Linked DNA regions of Homo sapiens. The protein of the gene in region 2 interacts with the protein of the main gene of each other region in a pairwise test. Each region holds a gene or a part of one and is shown on either strand. Other genes may lie near its edges.

The links.
Region 1: the proteins of TLR4 (region 2) and NOX4 interact in binary tests that used the Homo sapiens proteins (3 or more experiments, as listed by UniProt).
Region 3: the proteins of TLR4 (region 2) and RNF216 interact in a two-hybrid assay, tested with the Homo sapiens proteins (one study listed by BioGRID).

Annotation. Positions count from the first base shown.
Region 1 is NC_000011.10:89,484,719-89,488,377, forward strand, and holds part of NOX4 (NADPH oxidase 4), read right to left. Parts: intron 1-3,659. UniProt on the Homo sapiens protein: NADPH oxidase that catalyzes predominantly the reduction of oxygen to H2O2. Can also catalyze to a smaller extent, the reduction of oxygen to superoxide. May function as an oxygen sensor regulating the KCNK3/TASK-1 potassium channel and HIF1A activity.
Region 2 is NC_000009.12:117,717,825-117,721,483, forward strand, and holds part of TLR4 (toll-like receptor 4 isoform A precursor), read left to right. Parts: 3' UTR 1-3,659.
Region 3 is NC_000007.14:5,771,559-5,775,217, reverse strand, and holds part of RNF216 (E3 ubiquitin-protein ligase RNF216), read left to right. Parts: intron 1-3,659.

The DNA.
Region 1 (3,659 bases), on a different chromosome or scaffold from region 2:
ATAGATAAAGAATATAATTTCATCAAAGAAATATAACCCATTTCACCCATCAATAAACAAGAAAATTGTGTCTAAATAACAGAATGTTAAGAATAAAAACAAATAAGCAAAATAACACTCATCTAAAAATGTCCCCTGAATTGTTATCATAACATGTGCCTGAGCAACTCTAGCTAGTGATTTTACAGTCTGTATAATTAGGATTTAATGACCAAATCTCTTCTGAAAGTAACAGGGATCATATATTCATTCTCAGCAGAATTAAAGCTGCCCAGGCCAGCTGTGAAACTAACATTGACTTAAAATCCTAGATCCATTTGTCCAGAGACTCCAGTCTCTGACCTTAAGAAATTCACATGACATCAGATTTCTGTCTCTGTAAAATGTTATGATATAACTTCTAGGACTCTTGAGAGGGTAAATTAGTTAATGTTTCTAATGGATAATGATTGACTAAAGAAAGATAATCCCAGTGTTTCACTAGAAAGAATCTGAATGCTCAAGAGCATAGATATTTCAATAAAAGTTTAAAAAAAGCTTCAAGATCATGCAGCAGATCTAAAACAATATTTGTGAATAAAAGCAAAATAAAAATTAAAATCTTATCCTGACACCATGTGAATAACTAGTTTGAAATTGAATAGTTTGGAGGGAAAAATATAATATATATAACTAAGACACATTGAATATATATATATAACTAAGACACATTGAATCTGATATCATAAAATCATTCTCTTTTCAAGTTAAAATGTTTATGGGAATTACATGATATTCTTTAATTATTAAAATGTAAAAAACGCAACTCAAAACAGGTAAACATGAATTCAAGAGCTCCTATAAATGGTGTTTTGAGTTAAACTGCTCCAATATTTCCAAAAAAAGAAAAGAAAACTACATTTCTGAGAGTTGAACACAACCTGTTACTAATTTCTATAAAGTTCAGGCAACTACATTTTCCATTCTTGAAAATAAATAAATGAAAATGGATTTAATCTTAAGCAATCAATGAAGTGACTTATTTAAAAGGTTGCCATGGGGGAGTGGAGCAGGCTATTGTTTGGTTTGTTGGTTTGCTTGTTTCGGTGTTCATTTTGGCTTCTCTCAATAGATTTTTTTTTCCTCTTAGCTAATTTTAAGATTCCAAAACTCATGACATGTCACAATTAAACATCTCCTAGGAAGTGCACAGTCTGATTAGCACATTAACTCAGGCATAAACCAGCCATGACCACGTTGCCTCCACTCTGGATCAGACCAGTCTGGGGAAGGATAATCATGATGAGAACCCCCAATAAAACATATTAATCCCAATGTTATATTTTATCTTCTAGCAATTAAGATCTTATTTTTTCTATCAATTCGTATGTATTTTTTTTACTCTTTAATTTTATTACGAGAATAATAACCCAGAAATAAAAGTGGATACTCTAGTTCTGAGAAGTAAATACTTTCACCTTCATTCTCAAAGATTCCCACCTTCAGAAAACTCAGAAGATGAGACAGAAGTCAGGGAGATTTTTATAGTTCTATACCAATTTTATTTATTTATTTAAATAAATAAATAAATAAATTTATTTATTTAAATATTTATTTATTTATTTAGCTGTGTCACCCAGGCTGGAATGCAGTGGCCCAATCATAGCTCACTGCTGCCTCCAAACTCCTGGGCTCAAGCAATCCTCCTGCCTCAGCCTTCCAAGTAGCTGCAATTACATGCATGTGCCACCACGCCCAGCTAATATATGTGTGTGTGTGTGTGTGTGTGTTTGTGTGCATATATACACATATATACACATACATATATATGTGTATATATACATATATGTGTGTATATATGTGTATATATACATATATATGTGTGTATATATGTGTATATATACATATATATGTGTGTATATATGTGTATATATACATATATATGTGTGTATATATGTGTATATATACATATATATGTGTGTATATATGTGTATATATACATATATGTGTGTATATATGTGTATATATATGTATATTTTTTTTATTTTTGTAAAGATGGGGTCTCACTTTGTTGCTCTGGCTAGTCTCAAACTCCTGGCTTCAAGCAATGCTCCCACCTTGGCCTCCCAAACCAATAATTTTTGTAGTTCCACAACTTCCCATCCTTTGACAATTCCTGCTTAGTAGAGGAGGAGCAAGAGGACTACCCATGTCCTGATGTCTCTTTTACAGCCTGGTTAGTTGGCCACATATTATTAAATAAATGTCACTGGTTTCTTTTTCCTTTTTTTAATGTGCTACTAGAAAACTTTAAATTATATATATGACTTGCTTTATGTTTCTGTTGGGCAGCACTGGTAAAAATTAATACTAACCAGTAGTATAAGTATCTGACATGGACCAGTGAAGTCGTTTAGAAAAGCTACGTAGTATGATGAAAAAGCAGAGGTCAGACAGGGCTGTATTCAAATCCTAGCTCTGACACTGACCATTAAAAGGTATTTCAGCGAGTCATACAGCTTCCTCAGCCCATATTTCCTTGTATGTAAAACAGAGAGAACAGTTTCCCAGCTTAAACAAAACATTTGTAAAATTCCTGGCATATCACAGGTATAAGTAAACATTTGAATAAAAAGTCATTCTTCAATAGAAAATAGAGATTTTCAAGCAATTACTAAGAATTAACTGTTTCTCATTGTCTGTGTCTTCCAATAAATGGACCATATTCTGTGGGTCCTTCCTGTACTAGTACAACTTTGTTATTACCTTACATTTCACAGACGAATGACAGCAACTTTATACTCAAAGCTATTATCAAAATGTTCAGCCATGAAAGTATTGTTTCTATTTGCATTTTAAATGGTACAATGAAATACATTTCCAGAAATAACATCATGATTTTTACAAACCTAAAATCCACCTAAAAGAGACTTATAATATACCTTGACTCTCTTCAGGAATCCCACATGCGTATACCAGTGGGACCAAGTGTTTGCTAAGTTCTAAGATGCATCACTCTAAGATGCTAAGTTAATAACATATAGTTCTTAAAAATGTAAAACATCAGAACCAGCAATATTTATTTAAAAATTAATTCTATCTCTTTGTTATACTGCATTTCTTTGCAATTTGAAAAGTGCCTGCAAATTGTTACTCTATGAAATAATGCAACACTTATTATAAGATTAGAAAAGATAAGCCTAGGACATAAAATTAAACACTACTTCATAGATAGTAAAACTGTAGAAGGAGTTTCTTTTCCAATAAAAGGTAATATACAGACTGAAAATACCTATTCCAAAATAGCTTAGATAAATTAATGACTGGAAAATTCATAACAGATAATTACTGAGAAGTTTATAAGTCATATTTTATCTCTCAGCATGTAGAAAGACCATTCCTGTCCACAGTGACTCTTGGTAAAATGGAGAATACTTACCAGATAGCTCAAATATCAACTCACTATAATTATACTTGTGTGTTCTTAAAAACTAATTTATAACAACCTCTCCTTTCTTGAATCTGTTTCTTATCCTTTATGCTCCTAGTCTTCCATTTGGTCCTTTTATCATTTTTTTTCTTCATTCCCTTGATCAATATTTATTGAGCCCTATGTGTCAGCAGTCCTTGAAGCTCATTACCCTGTCTGTTATTCAAGCAGAAGCAGTGAAGTGGGATGG
Region 2 (3,659 bases):
CCCTCTCCCAGATGGAAATTCTAGAAATGGCAGGTGAGGTGGACAAGCAGGGAAAGAAATTATATGCATAGAACAGAAGGAGAAGAAAGAGTAAAGTCAGGCCTCAGCCAGCCTCTTTTTAGCTCTTTAAATCCTCTGGATTTAAGAGGGATAAAGGGTGGAATAAGGATAAATTAATGCCAATTGTAATGCCTTAAATTTGTGTGATACCTTACAACTTGAAACATATTCACAAAACTATATATTTGAATATCTCATTAGCTGAGTAAGGTAGCAAATCATAATTAACTTTTTCCATTTTATTGATGGGAAAGCTGAAGTTCAATGAAGTAAATTTTTCAATAGCCCACAGAGTAGGAAAGTGACAAAACCTGAGCCTGGGCCTCCAGGTCACTCAAGGACACTTTCTTTCTTCCACACCCAATTGCTTCATGCTTAAAGTTGGCAAAACAGGAAGTGAAACTCCTGCAGTTTTCTGTGTGGTTGACACTAGCAAGGGTTTCTCAGTTGAAGCCATGAATCATTAAGCCAATACATATGCATATATGTTATACATACCAAATGATTTATTTATAACCCTATCTTTCCATAAAGGACTTGAAGGAGCTTCAAACAAAGGATATGTGAACAATAGGGTTAATCAATAATAAGTAGAAAATCTGGACATAGAATAAAAAGAGGAGAGAAAGACACCGAGAATGAGCGTTAATACAGTGCTTTCCATTTTTCTGGTGTTTTGAGTAGCGTGGCTTTTGGAGAAAGCCAAAACTCAAATTCACTCCTTATCAACTGTGTGCCTTGGGCTCCATTTCTCTGAGAGTCTACTTAGCTCCAATGTAAAATAAGAATAGAACTATGACTTTGTAAGGTTGCTCTAAGGATTGAAAATCATGTATTATGTTCAATACGGGGACACTGTCCTTATGGGTGAGTACTCCCCTAAGACTTTATTAAGAGGGCACTAGGAGAAGCACTGGGAGGTCTTCTCAGTAACAACACTAAAGTAATTGCTATTTTTCCAGCCTGTGGAACCACAGAAGTGACTGTAACTAAAATTAGACATTTCTTTCTGATTCATTCTCTACTCACGGGATTGTCAGACCCCAGTCTTCTTCTGGACTCTATAAACTTTTTAGAAATCATCAGCAGGCTCCTGGAGAAGCTTAAATGAACTCACACAATATGTGACAGTGAACTCCCTGGGAGAGTGAAAACCAAAGTCTAAGCCAGTGTCTCCATTTACTTGTGTGATTGTGGGCAAGTCATTCAAGTGCTTTGAGGCTCAGGTCTTAATTCATGAAATGGAGGTAATAATACCTTGTTGGCAGACCTCACTTGGTTAAAATGATAATGTTGATAGTTACAATAGTTACATTTAATTGATCAATTGTTTTATGCAAGGGCTTTATTTGTGCTATCTCAGTTTGTCACATCAATGAATTAGAAAGATACGAAAGTATTTCCAATTTACAAATGAGGAGTCTGAGTCTGGGAGTCATTCTGTCATGTGTCCACTGTCACCTGCTCATTGGTGGCAGCACTGAGATTAGGATCTAAGTCCACTTCACCGCAGAAGCAGGGCTTCTAAATACTGTTCTATGGCAAGAGCACCCTGCTCTCACAAAATGCATAAAACTTCCTATCTCACCATTATAATTTTGACTGATATTAAACAAAGAGAAGTATTATTATTATTACTTGTTTTTATTTATATTACAGCTGTAAGAGCCAGGAAAAATGTGATCTAAGTTATGTGATCAAAGATTTTTTAACAGTGAACAAATCAGGCCCACTAGATGATGGCCTTTCTTTGAACAACATGCCTAGGGTTGCTCTATCATGTCTACAGTTGGTCTGACTTCCTGACGGGCATCACAGACTTGTGATTAAACACAGAGGTTATGGGGGAAGTTCCAAAAGCTTAGGACTTTCCAGATGGTTGGAATAAGATCACACACTCTGGCTGCCCTTATGGAGATCACCGAACTTTTCAACTCAAAGTAAAATCTGTGGAGTAAATGGTCGATCAAAAGGAACCAACTATATTGAGCACCATGCGTGATCATCTGATCGTTACTGCTACCTTGTGAGTTAAAGGCTACTCTTCTCATTTTAGAAATGAGAAAAGAGATGCCCAGAGAGGACGAGTAACTTGCCTTAGGTCACACAGCTTATATTAATCACAATAACATTTGCCGCACCTTCTGTATTTTTTTTAAGTTGCTAAGCTTTTGGTGCATGTCTGGCACCGTTTTAGTTGTATATTATTTCATTTAATTGTTAAAATGACCTTCTGATGCAGGTATTTGTAGCTTTGCCATTCCACAGATGAAGAAACAGATGAAAGGACTGAATTGTTCAATAGGAAGGAGCAGAATCAGGATATGAACTTGGGTTGGCCTGATTCTTGGGGCTGCATTCTTTCCATAACATAATTGCTTGCTGTGATGTCCTGGGCTACTCTGCCAGGGGTGGTTAGTGGAGTGAATGGAGAATAATTTAGACAAGGTCAGTAACTCCCATGCCATCTAGAAATTAAAAGTTTAAAAGGCAGAGTCTGCAACTCTCCTTGATTTCTACAGAAATAAAGATGATCCCTCCTGTGACAGTGCTAAGTGACAATTCTGAGTGTAAATGCGCTTTTTGGCACAAATTGTCCTGTCCTAATAGTCTTGATTATAATTATAAAATAATGGGTTTCTGAAAGGCTGCAAGCAGTTCTGGGAATGGCAATAAAGGTTTAGAAATGACGTGATGTTTATGAGAGAAGTGTTTTGTTGAAAATTAAACTCACGTTTAGGAGAAAGGATTGTGTTGTATGCTCCTAGGAAACTATCTCACTATGTAATTAAATCAAAACCAGCCAGTTACCAATTTGAGCTCTTGACTCATACTAACAACACCCCATTTCCCATGGGCCAAGCAAGGCAGGACTGACCTGAAATAACCCAGCCTGACTCTATCCACAGCCACCCCAGGACCTTGCCCCTCCGTCTTCCTAGGGCTCGGCCGTGAGATGCTAGTGCATGACCCTTCCTCTTCCTGGGACTGTCCTTGTCTTTCCCTTTGGACTCTGGGAGGTCTGTTCTCCTCCTCAGAAAGGAATAAACACTCTTTCTATTTGTGGGATTCCCTAGGAGACACTATATAAAAATATAGAGTTAAAAAAACTATTTAAAAAAAAGACAACTTCATGTCTCTACTCTGACTTCATTCTTTTTAAGATGGGTAACAAAGACTCTCTTCAAGGTTAGAAAATTTTATTTTAATTTTTATAGATTTAGAGAGTGCAAATGCAGTTTTGTTACATGAATATATTGCATAATGGTTTAGTCTGGGCTGTTAGCGTAACCATCAACTGAACAGTGTACTTTGTACCTATTAGGTACTTTCTCATCCCTTAACCCCTTCCCACCTTTCTGAGTCCTCAATGTCTGTTATTTCATTCTCCATGTCCATGTCTACAAATTATTTAGTTTCCACTCATAAGTGAGAGCATGGATGGAACTGGAGAAGAGTATTTTCTATCCCAAGATCGGTTCCTTGATCTTGTGTCTCCAAATCACTTGCTCTCTCTCTTACATCTTTTCTATCTTCTTCTAGCCTCTTTTTGCAAACTTCATTTTGACAAAGAATTCCAGGCAGTCTACAGCTGATTT
Region 3 (3,659 bases), on a different chromosome or scaffold from region 2:
CTTGATAACTGAAGAAAATCCTAATTGTTGTTGCCTAGGCCATGTTTCCTGACTCTGGTTCTATGGCCATGGTGAATAACAGCTCCAGTCTTTGACAGAGGAAGAAGTTTTTGGAGCCACTCGTTCAACAACTGTGCTAGGCATTGGAAATACAACTATAAGTAAGAAAAGAGGCCAGGCACAGTGACTTACGACTGTAATCTCACCACTTTGGTGAGTGTCGGGGGGGTGGATCACCTGAGGTCGGCATTTCAAGACCAACCTAAGATGGCGAAACCTCATCTCTACTAAAAATATAAAATTAGCTGGGCATGGTGGCAACATGCCTGTAACTTGGGAGGCTGAGACAGGAGAATCACTTGAACTCTGGAGGGGATGTTGCAGTGAACTGAGATTGCACCATTGCACTCCAGCCTGGGCAACAAGAGCAAAACTTCGTCTCAATAAAAAAAAAAAAAGTAACTTGGAATGGGAAAATAAAGATTTTTTCCCCCCTTGAACTGTATTTTATTAATAAGCACTGCATTTCCTGTGTACTTGTGATTACAATGCAGCTATTTTGATGGTATTTACCATATACAAAGTGGCTTCTCATTTTTCAACATAGCCTTGTAATGTAAGAATAGCTATTTTGATTTTTCTGTTTCGCAGGTAACAGTTAATAAAAATAGCACAATGTCACACTTAGTATATATCAGGCACTGTGCTAAAACTTCATGTAATTCAACTGATTTAGTTTTTAAAAAGTTTTTATTTTTTAAAATTAATGAATTTTTTTGGAGGTAGGTTCTCCCTCTGCCGCCTATGCTGGAGTGCAATGGTGCTATCATAGCTTACTTGCAGCATTGAACTCCTGGGCTCAAAGGATTCTCTTGCTTCAGCAACCACAGTAAAGCTGGGACTTGGGCACATGCCACTCTACCTACCCGCAACTAATTTTAAAACAACTGTATTCTCATTTTACAAATGAGGAAATTGGCCTAGGAGATTGAACAATTTATCTGGAGCCACCGATTGACTAAATGGGAAACCAAGATTTAAACATAGGCAGTATTATCCGAAGCCCAGATTAAAAGACTTGAGTGTCAGAGAGTTAAATGACCTGATACAGAGACTTACATTTAGTTAAGAGTAGAAATTCCATCATCAGAATTCTTTTCTTCTCACAGGTTGGGGCCACTGGTGTGCCACTCATGAGGAATTTTTTGAACCGTTACTAGCAGTCTGCTTAACTACAAGCCTGACATTTCAACTAAATTAGCTGTAAAAATGACTCACATCTCCCTTTGATTTTCAGTGTAAAATTGAAGGAAGCCAGTTGTGGTCAAAGAAAAAATAAGAAATTTGGCTTGGGGCCAGGCACGGTGACTCGCCTGTTATCCCAGGACTTTGGGAGGCTGAGGCAGGCAGATCACTGAAGTCAGGAGTTCAAGATCAGCCTGGCCAACATGACAAAACCACTTCTCTACTAAAAATACAAAAATTAACCAGCATGGTGGCACGCATGTGTCGTCCCAGCTACTCAGGGAGGCTGAGGCAGGAGAATCGCTTGAACCTGGGAGACGGAGGTTGCAGTGAGCTGAGATCGTGCCACTGCACTCCAGCCTGGGTGACAAAGCAAGATTCCGTCTCAAAATTTGGCTTGAAAATAGTGTTCAAAATACTTTTTAAAAATCTGGCTGGGTGTGGTGGCTCACTCCTGTAATCTCAGCACTTTGGGAGACCAAGGCGGGGAAATCACGAGGTCAGGAGTTTGAAACCAGCCTGGCCAACATGGTGAAACATTGTCTCTACTAAAAATACAAAAAACTAGCTTGTTTGGTGGCGGGCACCCTTAATCCCAGCTATTCTGGAGGTTGAGGCAGAAGAATCGCTTGAACCCAGGAGGTGGAGGTTGCAGTGAGCTGAGATTGCACCACTGCACTCCAGCCCAGGTGACAGTGGGAGACTCTGTCTCAAAAAAAAAAAAAATCTTATTTGGGGAAAAAAAAGGACTTGATTAGATGCAGTTCAAATTTGATACCAGAGCTGTTCTTTTAAATACCATGCTACTTATTAATAACATCAATATCATTATTTCAAATGAGAGACCCAAACTTACGCTGATATATGTCAGTTTTAAAAGTGGGAATACCTGGGGCCAGGCATGGTGGCTCATGCCTGTAATCCCACCACTGTGGGAGGCTGAGGCGTGTGGATCACCAGAGGTCAGTAGTTCGAGACTAGCCTGGCCAACATGGTGAAACCCTGTGTCTACTAAAAAATACAAAAATTAGCCAGACATGGTGGCGCATGCCTGTAATCCCAGCTACTCGGGAGGGTGAGGCAGGAGAATTGCTTGAACCCGGGATGCAGAGGGTTGCAGTGAGCCGAGATCGTGCCATTGCACTCTAGCCTGGATGACAAGAGCGAAACTCTGTCTCAAAAAAAAAAAAAAAAAAAGGAATATCTTTTTTCAGTTATCAATGCTAGAAATTTCTGTTGTAAAACTTTGCTAACCTGGTTTTGATATCTGTATATTTTGATAGTATCTATAACTTCACATTCTATAAGTTGAGAAAATGCTGATATTATTTGACTATTAACTCTTTGTAGACATTTAATGAGAAGCCCCGATCTGGGGCTTACTGCCTCTGAGGCACAGTGGTTTCTCCCAGGAAGGCAAAGAAAATTGAGATTTTCTCAGAGAGGAAGGAAAGGATTGAATCGCTTAAACCTGGGAGATGGAAGTTGCAGTAAGCCGAGATCGCACCACTGCACTCCAGCCTGGGTGACACAGCAAGAAGCACATTTAAATCTTGTGTTTATAGTAATTTGGTGTTTGTGGAGATTCTTTCTTGTCTAGTTTTTTTGTAACTGTTGTCCATGGAATTTTTTCTGTTACTATGTAAGAATTTGAGGAGATTCAAAGACTATTCTGCTGTTACTACTACTGTCTTCCCAGAATTTCCTTGTGGTTTTATTTTATTTTACTTTATTTTATTGGGACGGAGTTTCACTCTTGTTGCCCAGGCTGGAGTGCAATGGCTTGATCTCGGCTCACCGCAACCTCCACCTCCCGGGTTCAAACGATTCTCCTGCCTCAGCGTCCTGAGTAGCTGGGATTACAGGCATGGGCCACCATGCCCAGCTAATTTTGTATTTTTAGTAGAGACAGGGTTTCTCCATGTTGGTCAGGCTGGTCTCGAACTCCTGAGCTCAGGTGATCCACCCGCCTCGGCCTTCCAAAGTGCTGGGATTACAGGCGTGAGCCACCACGCCCGGCCCCTTGTGGTTTTAGTTTACATTTCTCTGATGTCTCATAATGTTGGACACTTTTTCATTTATTTATTGGCCTTTTGCGTTTCCTCGGGGTACTCAGCCGTTGTTAATTCAAATTGTTTGCCCCATTTTTCCTTTGGGCAGATGTTTTTTGGTGGGGGGACAGGGTTTCACTCCCATTGCCCAGGCTGGAATGCAGTGGCGGGATCACAGCCTACTGCAACCTCCACCTCTCGAGCTCAAGAGATCTTCCCACCTCAGCCTCCTGAGTAGCTGGGACTAGGTGCCCGCTACTGCGCCTGGCTAAATTTTTTTGCTTTTTTTGTAGAAATGGGTTTTGCCATGTTGTCCAGGCTGGTCTCAGACTCCTGAGCTCAAGTGATCTGCCTGCCTTGGCC